4 linked regions of the Homo sapiens genome follow. The protein of the gene in region 1 purifies or fractionates together with the protein of each later gene. This does not show direct contact. Each region holds a gene or a part of one and is shown on either strand. Other genes may lie near its edges.

Region 1 (2,899 bases):
AACTTCGAATAGATGAAGATAACTTGGTAGGAAGAGCTGGTGAATAACAAAATAAATATTGTTAACAAAAGACCAGGAGATCTGTGGAGGGAAAAAGAGAACTTTATTTTCTGTTAAAAAAACAACCTGCACATTGGGTGTTATAGCCTTCAGTACAAGTGAAAGCGTGCTTTCCGAATAACTTTTCCATGTTCTTCTTTAAGAAATTTCACTGCTGCTCGTAAGGTTTTGAGGAGCTGACAAGCTCTGACTGGTGAGGGATGGCAGTCGGCAAAACTAGTCTGAGAGCTGCAGCCAACATTTTGTGTTCCAGGTGCTTCTCCCCCCAGCTTCTCAACTCAGTTTTAGTTGGGTATGACAAGAATGACTGAATTTGTGTGATCAACTCTCACAATATCATTAGATGGGAATTAAGGTGTGCTGAAGATAACAGAAGCACAACACCCAAAGACGCCAGGTGCAGTGGCTCATGCCCGTAGTCCCAGTGCTTTGGGAGGCCAAGGTGGAAGGATTGGTTGAGCCCAGGAGTGCAAGGTTGCAGAGAGGTGTCATTGCACCACTGCACTCCAGCCTGGGCGATGGAGCAAGACCCTGTCTCTTAAAAAATTCTTATGAGTAGAAATCTCTTAAGTTTACTAAAGAATCAAGAAAATGGGAAGAAGAGGCTATAATTATAATACTGTCTTTTGTAGCACTTTACCATTTGTGAAACAGCTAAAGTGGGTATTTTTGTACTCTTCTTTAAGATGAAGAATTTGAGGCTTATGAGATTAAATAGAATGATTAAAAACCTAGTTGGCAGAGCTGAGCTTTTTGTGCTCATCACATTCTAGTAAAAGGGTTAGAATTCTTTCTTCTCGGCCAGGCTCGGTGCTCACACCTGTAATTCCAGCACTTGGGAAGGCCGAGGTGGGCAGATCACTTGAGACCAGCCTGGGCAACATGGTGAAACCCCATCTCTACAAAAAATACAAAAATTAGCCGGGCGTGGTGGTGTGTGCCTGAAACCCCAGCTACTTGAGAGGCTCAGGCAGAAGAATCTCTTGAACCCAGGAGGCAGAGATCAAAATGAGCTGAGATTGTGCCACTGCACTCCAGCCTGGGCGACAGAGCGAGACTCACTCTCAAAGAATCAAGAATTCTTTCTTCCCAATTACATCTTACATTGTTGTAAGAAATAGAGTAGTATTATAGGACAGAAAGCATGTAGGTATGCCAGATGCCGAATAATGGATGTCACGAGAAACACAGATAGATGTATCCATTAAATATATCCCCAGAAAGGGAGAAATTGAAAACGAAATAATAGGGTATTTGGGAGAAGGGATGGTGGTGCTGTGTAAAGTCTGAAAGATGAGGAAACTAAGAAGTTAAATAACTTGAAGCCACATGACCAGTGGGTGGCACAGACCCCAGATGTGAATCCCGACACGCCTCATCCAAGCCGTTTCCAAAACTGACTCTGCACCTAATGGGGATTTTTCTGAAGGTGCACTTGCTGACATAATGGATAATAATGCACACAATACACAGGAAGGAAATTAGAATGTTTAGGTATCAAATGTAGGCTAGTCTCCCTGGGTTCTTCCTCCAGGGCTCTCAACAGCCGTCAGATCTGCATGTGTCTATCTACAGAACTTTCATATTTATACTGACCTGTTGTCAAGTGTTTGTTTACATCCAGAAGGTCTCTCATCTTCCTTGCCTCACTGTGGGTGTCTGTTCATGGTACTACTGTTAGTTCACCAACCCAGCTTGGAACTTTAGCTTTACTTTTTTCACTCTTCTCTTCTCCCATGACCAAAGAGTTCAACCATGGTATATGGACCCTTGCACTAGAACATTCTTTGGGGGAGGTGTACATGGTGGGATGTTTAACAGCATCCCAGGCCTCTGTCTGCCAGTAGTACCTTCTGCCCTTAAGTTGTGACAGTCAAAAATATCTCCAGACATTGCCAAATAAGATGAAGACTGAGACTTGGCCACTAGATTTGAAGTTGTAAGTGACCCTGCTAGCAGCATATTAGTGGCATGGTATGAGTAAAGACTGCAGCGTATGTTAACGACGAGAGAAGAATTTGAAATAGGGAGTTTAGGCAAGTCTTTCAAGGAGCTTGTGGGGAGCAGAGAAATGCAAGTGGTAGCTGGAAAGGGATGTGAAGTCAAGAGCATTTTAAGAAAAGAAACGGGAATGACTCTCACAGAGATGGAAAAAACGGGAGGTGTCAGGTACCACCTGACAGCAGCTTGAGTTTGCTGACAACCAGGCATGAGCTGCAGTCATCCCCAGGGCTCCCTTTCCATCTGCTGTGCATAAAACGTATTCAGATTCCACAAAAGGTTGAGCCAGAAAGATCTTTTAAAAGCACCACCTCAAGAGTTTGCCATTTTAACCAGTCGCTTACACATCCACACCCAAGTCTAAAGACTGCCCCGATTTCTTACCTGCAGTGCTACAACTGTGAGGAGGAGGCCATGTACCACTGCTGCTGGAACACATCCTACTGCTCCATCAAGTGCCAGCAGGAGCACTGGCACGCGGAGCACAAGCGCACCTGCCGCCGGAAAAGATGAAGCTGGCCCTTCCCGGAGTCACCCCGATGATTACTCTTTTCAGACACAGCGGTTTTTGTTTCCAAGAAGCCAAAATTGTTTAGAATTTGCTTCCCATTTTGCACCAGCCTTTAAACACTTTTCGTGAAGAAATTTTGCACAGTAGTTTAAATCTTTTGTTAATGCTCCTCCGAAGTTTTTCAGGGGGTAAAAGTAACATCAGTGGAGGGTATTATTTTAAATAAATTTTAATTGAGAATTTGTTGCATTTTCAGCAAATTTTAAAACATTTTTAGGTTTTACAGAGATTTTAACCTTTAAACAACAGATCTTTAAAAAACAGGTG
Region 2 (3,779 bases), on another chromosome or scaffold:
GACCTTTCAAGAATCTTTAATTTTTAAAGTAAATCCAAATGGTTTACCAATATGGTGTGGATTCACTTAGCAAATGTTTATTGAGCATTTAATGTGTGCCAACCCTTGTTCTGGCCATTGAATATTCAGCAGTGAACAACAAAAAAATCAAATTTCAGCCCTCAGAAGGTTTGGGGAGGCAGACAGTAAATAAGGAAAAAAGGCCAAGCATGATTACATGCCTTTAACTCCAGCACTTTGGGAGGCCGAAGCAGAAGGATCACTTGAGACCAGCATGGGCAACATAGTGAGACCTAGTCTCTACAGAAAATTTTAAAAATTAGCCGAGTGTGGTGGCACACACCTGTAATTCCAGCTACTCAGGAGGCTGAGGTGGGAGGATCACTTGAGCCCAGGAGGTCAAAGCTGCATTGAGCCTTGATCGTACCACTGCACTCCAGCCTTAGAAGCAAAGCGAGGCTCTCTCTAAAAGAAAAAGAAAAAATAATAAGTGATATGTCAGCTGATAATAACTATGAGAAAAATAAGGAAAGAGGATTGAAGTGTGAGGATGCTAGAGAGGCTACAGTTTTAAACAGGATGATCTGAGAAAGTGAGAGTTGAGGAACAGCCTGCAGGAGGTGAAAGAATACACCACACTGTGACAGGTATTCCAGACAGGTGCAAGCATCCCAAAGCTGGAGTATTTCTGGTGTGTCCATAAAGTTAGGTTGCTAAAATAGAATAAACAAAGAAGGAAAAGGAGTTGAGGTGAATGAGTTAATGATGGGTCCACATTTTAAAGGGCTATTCCAAAGGCCTTGGTTTTTACTCTGATGAGAAGTCATTGGAGGCCTTGAGCTGATGCGTGACACTGATTAATGTTTTAAAAGGCCACTTTGGCCACCTTTTTGAGAATAAGCTATGTAGAGGCAAGGGCAGAAGCAGAGAAGTTAGGAGGCTGTTGGAATTATCCAAGTGAGAAATGATGGGGCTTGGACCACGGAGATAGTGATGGACATGATGAGAAGTAGTTGAAGATAGAGTAGACATAATTTTCTGATGAATTAGATGTGAAGTATGAAAGAAAGGACTTAAGGATGATTCTATGTCTGGTTCTAGATATGTCTTTTGGCCTAAAAACAGGAAGAATGAGATTGCCATTTACTGATAAAGAGATTCTTTAGGGAAAAGCAGGTTTGGGGAGGAAAAGGGGGAGTTTTAACTTGGCCGTGTTAAATTTGAGATGCTTGTTAGATTTTCAAAGGAAAATACTGAGAAGGCAGCTGGGGATACAGCTCTAGAGTTAAGGGAAGGGGTCCTACCTGGAGATATAAATTTGGATATCACCAGGTATTTAAAGCTGTCAGTCTAAGTGAGATCAGAGCATAGATAAAGAAGAATAGCAGTCCAGGGACCAAACTCTGGTACTCTCCAATGTTTAGAGGTGAGAAAGATGGAAGCAACTAGTAAAGGAGACTGAGAAAGAACAGCTAGTGAAGTAGCAGGAAAACTAGGCAGTGAGGTATCCCAGAAGACAACTAAAGAAAGTATTTCCAGGAAGGAATAATGAACTGTGTCAAATGTTGCTGACTTGAATGGGGGCGGTAGCTCACGCTTGTAATCCCAGGATCTTGGGAGGCTAAGGTTGAAGGATCACTTGAGGCCAGCAGTTTGAGACCACCCTGAACGATGTAGTGAGACCCTGTCTCTACAAAAAATAATAGTAATAATAATAATTTTTTTTTTTGAGACGGAGTCTTGCCCTGTTGCCCAGGCTGGAGTGCAATGGCGTGGTCTTGGCTCACTGCAACCTCCATCTCCTGGGTTCAAGCGATTCTCCTGCCTCAGTCTCCTGAGTAGCTGGGATTATAGGTGCGCGCCACCATGCTCGGCTAATTTTTTGTATTTTTGGTAGAGACAGGGTTTCACCACATTGGCCAGGCTGGTCTTGAACTCCTAACCTGAGGTGATCCGCTTGCCTCAGCCTCCCAAAGTGCAGGGCTTATGGGTGTGAGCCACTGCACCCTGCACAAATCAATTTTTAATAAAAAAGTAAAAATGTTGCTGACAGGTCATGTTACATATGGACTAGAAGTGACTGATTTAGCAAGGTAGAATTACCTTATCAAAATAGTTTTGCTAGATTGGTAGGGGAATTGCCTGATTGTAGGGAAGAAAATAAAAGGGAAAGGAACCTATGGCAATGAGTATAGACAACTCTTCTTTTTTTTTAGATGGAGTCTTGCTGCCCAGGCTGGAGTGCAGTGGCGCAATCTTGGCTCACTGCAATCTCCGCCTCCCGGGTTCACGCCATTCTCCTGCCTCAGCCTCCCGAGTAGCTGGGACTACAGGTGCCCGCCACCACACCCAGCTAATTTTTTATATTTTTAGTAGAGACAGGGTTTCACCGTGTTAGCCAGGATGGTCTTGATCTCCTGACCTCGTGATCCGCCCGCCTCAGCCTCCCAAAGTGCTGGGATTACAGGCGTGAGCCACTGCGCCCGGCCAAGTATAGACAACTCTTTAGAGGAACTTTGCTCAAGCAGATAAATGGAGGGAGGGTATGGCTTGAGAGGATTTTTGTGGTAGAAATTGGAGCAAATTTATGTGCTGGCAGCAGTGATCTGATACAGAAGAAAATAGATGATGTTGAAAAGAGAGGAGAGATTTAGTGGAGAAATGCCTTTGGGTTGGGGAAAAGTGATAGGATGTAGTAGGAGATACTGGCCTTTGCTGGTTCAGAGCAGCGGGAACTCATGGAATACGTGGGCCAAGTTGCAGGGAAGTGTGGTAGTGTCGTGGTGGGAGCTTGTGGAGGTTGTTTTCTGGCTCCTCTTTTCTCAGTGGAATAGAAAACAAGGTCCTCACAGGGGAAGTAATATTGGAGGTATGAATAGAAGGAAGGTATGAAAATAGGCATCTAGAAGAGGGAATGTACCAAGAAACTGTATTGTGACTGTCAGGCAATATTAAGGACTCACTTGATGTAGGTAGACATGAATTTAAAGTGTTAAAAGGCCAGGCACAGTGGCTTATGCCTATAATCCCTACACTTTGGAAGGCCGAGGTGGGCGGATCGCTTAAGCCCAGGTGTTTGAAATTGGCCTGGGCAACATGGCAAGACCCTGTCTCTACAAACAGTTTTAAAAAATGAAAAATTAGGCCAGGCGCAGTGGCTCACGCCTGTAATCCCAGCACTTTGGGAGGCCGAGGCAGGTGGATCACAAGGTCGGGAGATCGAGACCATCCTGGCTTAACATGGTAAAACCCCGTCTCTACTAAAAATACAAAAACAAAATCAGCTGGGCGTGGTGGCAGGCGCCTGTAGTTCCAGCTACTGGGGAGGCTGAGGCGGGAGAATGGCATGAACCCCGGAGGAGGCGTTTGCAGTGAGCCAAGATCGCACCACTGCACTCCATCCTGGGTGGCAGAGCGAGACTCTGTCTCAAAAAAAAACTAAAAAATAAAAAATTATTTGGATGTGGTGGCATGTCCCTGTAGTCCCAGCTACTTGAGAAGCTGAGGTGGCAGGATTGTTTGAGCCCAGGAGGTCAAGGCTGCAGTGAGCTGTGATGGCACCACTGTGCTCCAGCCTGGGTAACAGAACGCAACTTTGTCTCCAAAAAATAAATAAATAAATTGTTACAATGAAAGTGGCTCTGTGTTAGCCGGGAGTGGTGTGGTTCATGCCTGTAATCCCAGCACTTTGGAAGACCGAGGCAGGCGGATCTCTTGAGGTCAGTAGTTCAAGACCAGCCTGGGCAGTAGTTCAAGACCAGCCTGGGCAACATGGCGAA
Region 3 (3,779 bases), on another chromosome or scaffold:
GGCAGGAGAATTGCTTGAACCCGGCAGGCAGAGGTTGCAGTGAGCCGAGATCATGCCACTGCACTCCAGACTGGGCAACAGAGCAAGACTGTGCCTCAAAAAAAAAAAAAAAAATAGCTGCTGAGGAGAGGAGGAGCTCTTGAGTACTCAATGCAAACTATTGGAACTCTAGTTCTTGAGTTGGGTAATAGATTCCTGGTTATGCATTGTGTTTTTTATATGTACTCCAATACATAAAGTATCTGCTTCATTGAATTGAATGAGATAAGAATTGAAGTGTACATAAGGCATTTAGGAATGCCTTATTATTCTACTTAGGGTCTTAGAACTGTAATATTACTGCATGTTGACACTGCACATTGTTCATAGGCCACCTATAAATATTTTGTTAATTGTGTTCTTAATGAATGGAATCTGTGGTGGGATCATTCCAAATCAGCATATGGTTCAGTGGTCATTTTTTTCAGCCATTTGAAAATGTAAAATATGTGGGTGTGGTAGCTCACGCCTGTAATCCCACCACTTTGGGAGGCCTAGGCGGGAGAATTGCCTGAGCCCAGGAGTTTGAGACCAGCCTGGGCAACAAAGTGAGACCCCATCTCCACAAAAAATAAAATAAAAAATTAGCCAGGCTTGATAGTGCACACCTGTGGTCCCCGCTAGGCAGGAGGATCACTTGGGCCCAGGAGGTTGAAGTTGCAGAGAGCTGTGTTTGCACAAGTGCACTCCAGCCTGGGTAGCAGCAAGACCCAATCTCAAAACAAAAAGGCACTCACTTCCATTTGGAGTTTTTAAAAATCCTTTTATGGTATGGATTCCCAGTGTCAGAACAGTTACCAGGTCTTGGCTGATAAACTAGATGGTGAGAAGACTTTGAAAATAGTTGGGGATATTAGTATTATTTTTAACATAAAACAGTCTTCTAATACACTTTCTTGAAAATAAATACGTGCCTTTTTCAAGATGAAAATTTGCAGTTACCTCAACCCAGCCTTGGCTAAATCACGTTCTGCATCTGCATCTCACACCAAAACTACAGACACCTCTAAAACAGACTCCAGGGCTGGGCACGGTGGCTCAAGCCTGTAATCCCAGCACTTTGGGAGGTCAAGGCGGGCAGGGGCAGATCACCTGAGGTCAGGAGTTCAAGTCCAGCCTGACCAACATGGAGAAACCCTGTCTGCACTAAAAATACGAAACTAGCCTGGTGTGGTGGCGCATGCTGTAATCCCAGCTACTTGGGAGGCTGAGGCAGGAGAATCGCATGAACTCAGGAGACGGAGGTTGTGGTGAGCCGAGATTGCGCCATCGCACTCCGGCCTGGGCAACAAGAGCAAAACTCCGTCTCAAAAAAAAAAGACTCCAGGCTGGGTGCGGTGGCTCACACCTGTAATCCTAGCACTTCGGGAGGCCGAGGCGGGTGGATTATTTGAGGTCAGGAATTCGAGACCAGCCTGGCCAATATGGTGAAACCCTGTCTCTACTAAAATACAAAAATTAGCCGGGTGTGGTGGCGCGTGCCTGTAATCTCAGCTCCTCAGGAGGCTGAGGCAGGAGAATGGCTTCAACTGGTGTGGGGTGGAGGTTGCAGTGAGTTGAGATTGCGCCACTGCATTCCAGCCTGGGTAACAGAGCAAGACCCTGGTCTCAAAAATTAAAATAATTAAAAAAAAAAGACACCAAAACACATACACACTTTTTTTTTTTGGAGACAGGGTCTCTGACCCCCAGGCTGGCGTGCGGTGGTGTGATCACAATTTACTGCAGCCACCAACTCATGAGCTCAAGTGATTTCCCCCCTTAGCCTCCTGGGTAGCTGGAATACATGTGCAAGCCACTAGGCCCAGCTAATTATTTTTTGTAGAAATGGCATATTGCTATGTTGCCCCAGGCTGGTCTCAAACTCCTGGGCTCAAGTGATCCTCCCACCTCAACCTCCCAAAGTAGTGGGATCACAGGTGTGAGCCACCACCCGGGTCATACATACTCTCTTTGGGATATAAGAGGGGATGCAGGGATTTTTTTCCCTATTTATTGAGGGCTTTAATACTGTTTTTAATATTTTTAAATATTTCTGTTCTTTGTATTTCCTAGCACCAAATCAGATGAAAGCCAAGGAAGGGAGGAATGTGTACAGTTCTTCACGCTATGATGATTATGACAGATACAGACGTTCTAGAAGCCGAAGTTATGAAAGGAGGAGATCAAGAAGTCGGTCTTTTGATTACAACTATAGAAGATCGTATAGTCCTAGAAAGTAAGTGTGCTGTGTAGCACAGTGATCTGTTTAAAAAATGTATTTGTTAGCATTTAATTTTTTTTTACTATTTTGTATACTTTTAATTATATACATTGAATGTTTCATTGAGACAAAAAATACTGTAGCATTTTATTTTAAAAGTTTTATGGTTTGCTTTTAATTAGAAACTTTGCCTCTATGAATAGATATTTGTCACTGCTTTTTCTGATATGCTTTTTAGCAGTAGACCGACTGGAAGACCACGGCGTAGCAGAAGCCATTCCGACAATGATAGGTAAATAACTTTGCTTTGAAAAAGACTCATGTATTTTTTAATTTCAGAGTGAACTTTTGCTCTAAAAATAACAAATTTGATTAATATAGAATCTAATTTTTACTCTAATTATATCTCTCCTCTGTTTTGAAAGATTCAAACACCGAAATCGATCTTTTTCAAGATCTAAATCCAATTCAAGATCACGGTCCAAGTCCCAGCCCAAGAAAGAAATGAAGGCTAAATCACGTTCTAGGTCTGCATCTCACACCAAAACTAGAGGCACCTCTAAAACAGATTCCAAAACACATTATAAGTCTGGCTCAAGATATGAAAAGGAATCAAGGAAAAAAGAACCACCTAGATCCAAATCTCAGTCAAGATCACAGTCTAGGTCTAGGTCAAAATCTAGATCAAGGTCTTGGACTAGTCCTAAGTCCAGTGGCCACTGATAGTATAAACCATGGTCATTTTTAGGCATGTATCATTCATTTACTCATAGTTTGGTTTACTTAAATTATCAGGAATACAATGTTGCAATGATGCTTAAAAAACACTTGTTAGTTTTCCCTGTACCAGGCAATGGTTATAATTAAAATGATATGCTGTTGAGAAGCCACTCTTAAGAGTCCAGTTTGTTTAATGTTATGGGCAGCTACCAATTTGTGGTGTCTCTGTATATTTTTGTAAAGATTCTCATTTTTTATGCTTGAAGTATTTGGTGAAAAGATGTTGGTTGACCATAATTTGCAACATTGTCTCATTAAAAATAAACTTTCATATTCATATTTGGTAGAACTGTTAACCTAGAAATGTAGCTTGCTAATAAGATAGAATGATACAAAAGTGAAGTAGTAGCCACAGTACAACACTGACTGCTCAGACACATTTAGGTTCAGGGTGGACCTTTATGTCTTGTCAAGATGTCTAGGCCCGGCTGGGCGTGGTGGCTCACACCTGTAATCCCAGCACTTTGGGAGGCCGAGGCGGGCGGATCACGAGGTCAGGAGTTCGAGACCAGCCTGACCAACACGGTGAAACCCCGTCTCTACTAAAAATACAAAAATTATCCGGGCATGGTGGCACATGCCTGTAATCTCAGCTACTCAGGAGGCTGAGGCAAGAGAATCGCTTGAACCTGGGAGGTAGAAGTTGCAGTGAGCCAAAATCACGCCACTGCACTCCAGCCTGGGCAACAGAGTGAGACTCCGTCTCAAAAAAAAAAAAAAACCGGATGTCTAGGCCAATGATAATTATTTTTGATGC
Region 4 (3,937 bases), on another chromosome or scaffold:
GTGCCTGGGCAGCTTTGAAAGTTTCCCTCTTTCTGTCATAATGAGATGGTCTAGGCCCATCTTTGTGTACTACTTCCTGCTTTACGCCTGGAGTCAGTCATTTTCCCAAGGAGTCCTGGTTGGTAGAAAATAAGAATCTACAGTCTGGATGCATTAAAAAAATTTTGTAAAGCTTGGATTGTCGGTCTCTTTAAAACAGCTCTCGTCACAGTGAGTTGAATAGATCGTAAAGGGGAAAAGTATACACAGAAAGGCTGGTTGTTGAACAAGGGGAGAGATAATGGTGGCTTGCCCAGAGAGGCAGCAGCAGAGGTAGAAAGACCGAAGATCAGGAGGCATGATCGTGGGTGTGTAAGGGGATAGGGGAAAGACGGGGGAGTCAAGGATGGCTGTGATTTCTGTTACGAGGAACCATATGAATAACAGTGGCATCAGTGCACATAAGGAGCCCAGCAAAAGGAGCCGGCATCGGGGACAGTTAGAATTTCAGGAGCTGCTAAGAGGTTCAGGTGAACCATCCAGATGGAAGGTTTGCAGGTGACTTCATCTGTGGACCTAGAACCCAAGAGAGAGTTTGTGCCTGGACACAGCCAGTGCTGTACATATTGAAAATCTTGGCCGGGTACGGTGGCTCATGCCTGTAATCCTGGCATTTTGGGAAGTCGAGGCAGGTGGATCACCTGAGGTCAGGAGTTCGAAACCAGCCTGACCAACATGGAGAAACCCCGTCTCTACTAAAAATACAAAATTAGCCAGGCGTGGTAGCACATGCCTGTAATCCCAGATACTTGGGAGGCTGAGGCAGGAGAATCGCTTGAACTCAGGAGGTGGAGGTTGTGGTGAGCCGAGATCGCGCCATTGCACTCCAGCCTGGGCAACAAGAGTGAAACTCCATCTAAAATATATATATATAATATATATAGTCTTGATTGATGCTCATCAGCAGCCTCTTGTCAGCAAGTATTAAAAAATATTTTCTCCCCCTAGGTCTCGCTCTCGAAGCAGACATTCCCGTAAGAGCAGAAGCCGAAGTGGCAGCAGCAAAAGCAGTCATTCTAAGAGTAGATCTCGGTCCAGGTATGTCTTCCATGTTATAAGTAGAGGTGGTCAGCAGGGAATGCCTGTACCCTGTCTCACTTTTTTTTCTTTTTTTTTTCAAAGAGACACTCTGTCACCCAAGCTGGAGTCCAGTGGTACAGTCATGGCTCACTGCAGCCTCACCTCACTGGGCTCAAGCAAGCTTCCACCTCAGCCTCCCAAGTAGCTGGGACTACAGGCACATACTACCACACCCAGCTAATTTTTTAATTTTTTTTAGAGACAGGGTCTCACTATGTTGCCCAGGCTAATCTTAAACTCATGACCTCAAATAGTCCTCCCAGACTACTGCGATTACAGACATGAGCCACTGTGCCCAGCCTCACTTGGATTTCAATCATGTGACCAGTCTTCCTGCTTTTCCAGCTTCTTTTTCTTTTTTTTTTTTTTTTTCCCCCCTCAAGACAGAGTCTCGCTCTGTCGCCCAATCTGGAGTGCAGTGGCGCGATCTCGGCTCACTGCAACCTCTGCCTCACGGGTTCAAGCGATTCTCCTGCCTCAGCCTCCTGAGTAGCTCGGTTTACAGGCGTGTGCCAGCATGCCTGGCTAATTTTTGGTATTTTTAGTAGAGACGGGGCTTCACCATGTTGGCCAGGCTGGCTCTTGAACTCCTGACCTCGCGATCCGCCTGCCTTGGCCTCTCAAAGTGCTGGGATTATGGGCATGAGCCGCCGCACCTGGCCAGTTTTTCCAGCTTCTGATTGGCATTGTGAGGGTTCAGAAAACAATCCTCAGCCAGTGCCAGCCATGCTTTATATTGGGGGGTGTAACTCCACATGTATGCCCTTTGGTCTTTTTATCTCCTGATTAGCATGAAGTCACATGTGACACAAACAGTATCCCATGTCTCCTCAGGTCGGGCTCCCGCTCCCGGAGCAAGAGCCGGAGCCGGAGCCAGAGTCGGAGCCGGAGCAAGAAAGAGAAAAGCAGGAGCCCCAGCAAGGAAAAGAGCCGCAGCCGCAGCCATAGCGCTGGCAAGAGCCGCAGCAAGAGCAAAGACCAAGCTGAAGAGAAGATCCAAAACAATGACAATGTCGGGAAACCCAAGAGCCGGAGTCCTAGCAGGCATAAAAGTAAGAGCAAAAGTCGGAGCAGGAGTCAGGAGAGGAGAGTGGAGGAGGAGAAGCGAGGGAGTGTGAGCAGGGGCAGGAGCCAGGAGAAGAGCCTCCGCCAGAGTCGGAGCCGGAGCAGGAGCAAAGGGGGCAGCAGGAGCCGGAGCAGGAGCCGCAGCAAGAGCAAGGACAAGAGGAAGGGCAGGAAGAGAAGCAGAGAGGAGAGCCGCAGTCGCAGTCGCAGCCGCAGCAAGAGTGAGAGGAGCAGAAAGCGAGGCAGCAAGCGAGACAGCAAGGCGGGCAGCAGCAAGAAGAAGAAGAAGGAAGACACTGACCGCTCCCAGTCCAGATCTCCATCCCGCTCCGTGTCAAAGGAGCGGGAACATGCCAAGTCTGAATCCAGCCAGAGGGAAGGTCGAGGAGAGAGTGAGAATGCTGGCACCAATCAGGAGACCCGGTCCAGGTCGAGATCCAATTCCAAATCGAAACCAAACCTTCCATCAGAATCACGCTCCAGATCAAAGTCAGCTTCAAAAACCCGATCTCGGTCCAAGTCTAGATCCAGGTCTGCTTCCAGATCGCCCTCCCGATCTAGATCTAGGTCCCACTCAAGGTCCTAACTGGCTATGGCCACAGCTGGAACTACCCGAGAAGTCTTTTGTACATGTTTGGTAGCCGTAGCACAAGTGATTGGAGTAGAACATGTCACTGCTGTACATTTTTAACTCCCCTAATGGTGTGTCTATAATTGTTAAATCTAAGTGCTTCCTCTCAGTAAAGCCTCCTGGCACCAGGCCTTCCTGCTCGACTGAAAAAAATTTTCTCTTTGAAAATCCCCTTTTACTCATGGCCCACAGTAGAATATCCAAAACGCCTTGGCTTTCAGGCCTGGCCTTTCCTACAGGGAGCTCAGTAACCTGGACGGCTCTAAGGCTGGAATGACCACATAGGTAGGTATGGTGAGTTCAACCATTTTTGCTCTTGAATTGATGCCCTTCGATGTATGCCATTTAGTGAAAGTGCTAAGTCTTAAGTTTCCTACCACTTTGGTTTCATATTTTTGGACTTAACAAAGTTGTGAATAGCACAGTCGAGGAAAATTGATACCTGCAGTAACCCATAGGAAATAAACTGTAGAGTTCCATATTCTGGTATTGTGATTATATTGTTTTATATTAAAAAAGAAAAGAAAAGAATTTTTTTTAATTTTATTTTTCCCCGTCTTGCAAAGTATAGTGACCCCTGTTTCCATTAAATTTGAATAAAGACTATTTTTGCTTGACAAAATTTCATGGTGTTTGAATTGAAGTTGTACTTTCTGATATATCTTGATATGTCTTTTCTTAGCATAAAAAGTTCATGTGTAGGCCGGGCACGGTGGCTCACGCCCGTAATCCCAACAGTTTGTGAGGCTTAGGCAGACGGATCACAATGTCAGGAGTTCGAGACCAGCCTGACCAACATGGTGAAACCCCGTCTCTACTGAAAATACAAAAATTAGCCAGGCATGGTGGTACACGCCAGTAATCCCAGCTACTCAGGAGAATGAGGCAGGAGAATCGCTTGAACCCCGAGGGGTGGAGGTTACAGTGAGCTGAGATCACGCCACTGTACTCCAGCCTGGGCGACAGAGCGAGACTCCGTCTCAAAAAAAAAAAAAAAAAAAGTTCATGTGTAATGACTGTTTTGTTCCTTGGGATCACCCATCTTAGGGAACCAACACGTTCCTAAAGGATTTTTCTCACCAACAGAATAAAGGCAGGTTTCCGAGGAATTTATCATCCTTT

Evidence for each region. Proteins that work in one complex are often made in the same cells at the same time.
Region 2: the proteins of ZMYND11 (region 1) and KDM3B purify together in Homo sapiens (affinity purification with mass spectrometry, with the first as the bait; one large-scale study listed by BioGRID). This does not show direct contact.
Region 3: the proteins of ZMYND11 (region 1) and SRSF10 purify together in Homo sapiens (affinity purification with mass spectrometry, with the first as the bait; one large-scale study listed by BioGRID). This does not show direct contact.
Region 4: the proteins of ZMYND11 (region 1) and SRSF4 purify together in Homo sapiens (affinity purification with mass spectrometry, with the first as the bait; one large-scale study listed by BioGRID). This does not show direct contact.

The regions. Positions count from the first base shown.
Region 1 is NC_000010.11:249,897-252,795, forward strand, and holds part of ZMYND11 (zinc finger MYND domain-containing protein 11), read left to right. Parts: intron 1-2,451; coding exon 2,452-2,574; 3' UTR 2,575-2,899. UniProt on the Homo sapiens protein: Chromatin reader that specifically recognizes and binds histone H3.3 trimethylated at 'Lys-36' (H3.3K36me3) and regulates RNA polymerase II elongation. Does not bind other histone H3 subtypes (H3.1 or H3.2).
Region 2 is NC_000005.10:138,393,906-138,397,684, forward strand, and holds part of KDM3B (lysine-specific demethylase 3B), read left to right. Parts: intron 1-3,779. UniProt on the Homo sapiens protein: Histone demethylase that specifically demethylates 'Lys-9' of histone H3, thereby playing a central role in histone code. Demethylation of Lys residue generates formaldehyde and succinate. May have tumor suppressor activity.
Region 3 is NC_000001.11:23,970,328-23,974,106, reverse strand, and holds part of SRSF10 (serine/arginine-rich splicing factor 10), read left to right. Parts: intron 1-2,094; coding exon 2,095-2,257; intron 2,258-2,480; coding exon 2,481-2,534; intron 2,535-2,667; coding exon 2,668-2,965; 3' UTR 2,966-3,779. UniProt on the Homo sapiens protein: Splicing factor that in its dephosphorylated form acts as a general repressor of pre-mRNA splicing. Seems to interfere with the U1 snRNP 5'-splice recognition of SNRNP70. Required for splicing repression in M-phase cells and after heat shock.
Region 4 is NC_000001.11:29,147,243-29,151,179, reverse strand, and holds the end of SRSF4 (serine/arginine-rich splicing factor 4), read left to right. Parts: intron 1-987; coding exon 988-1,077; intron 1,078-1,953; coding exon 1,954-2,770; 3' UTR 2,771-3,437; downstream 3,438-3,937. UniProt on the Homo sapiens protein: Plays a role in alternative splice site selection during pre-mRNA splicing. Represses the splicing of MAPT/Tau exon 10.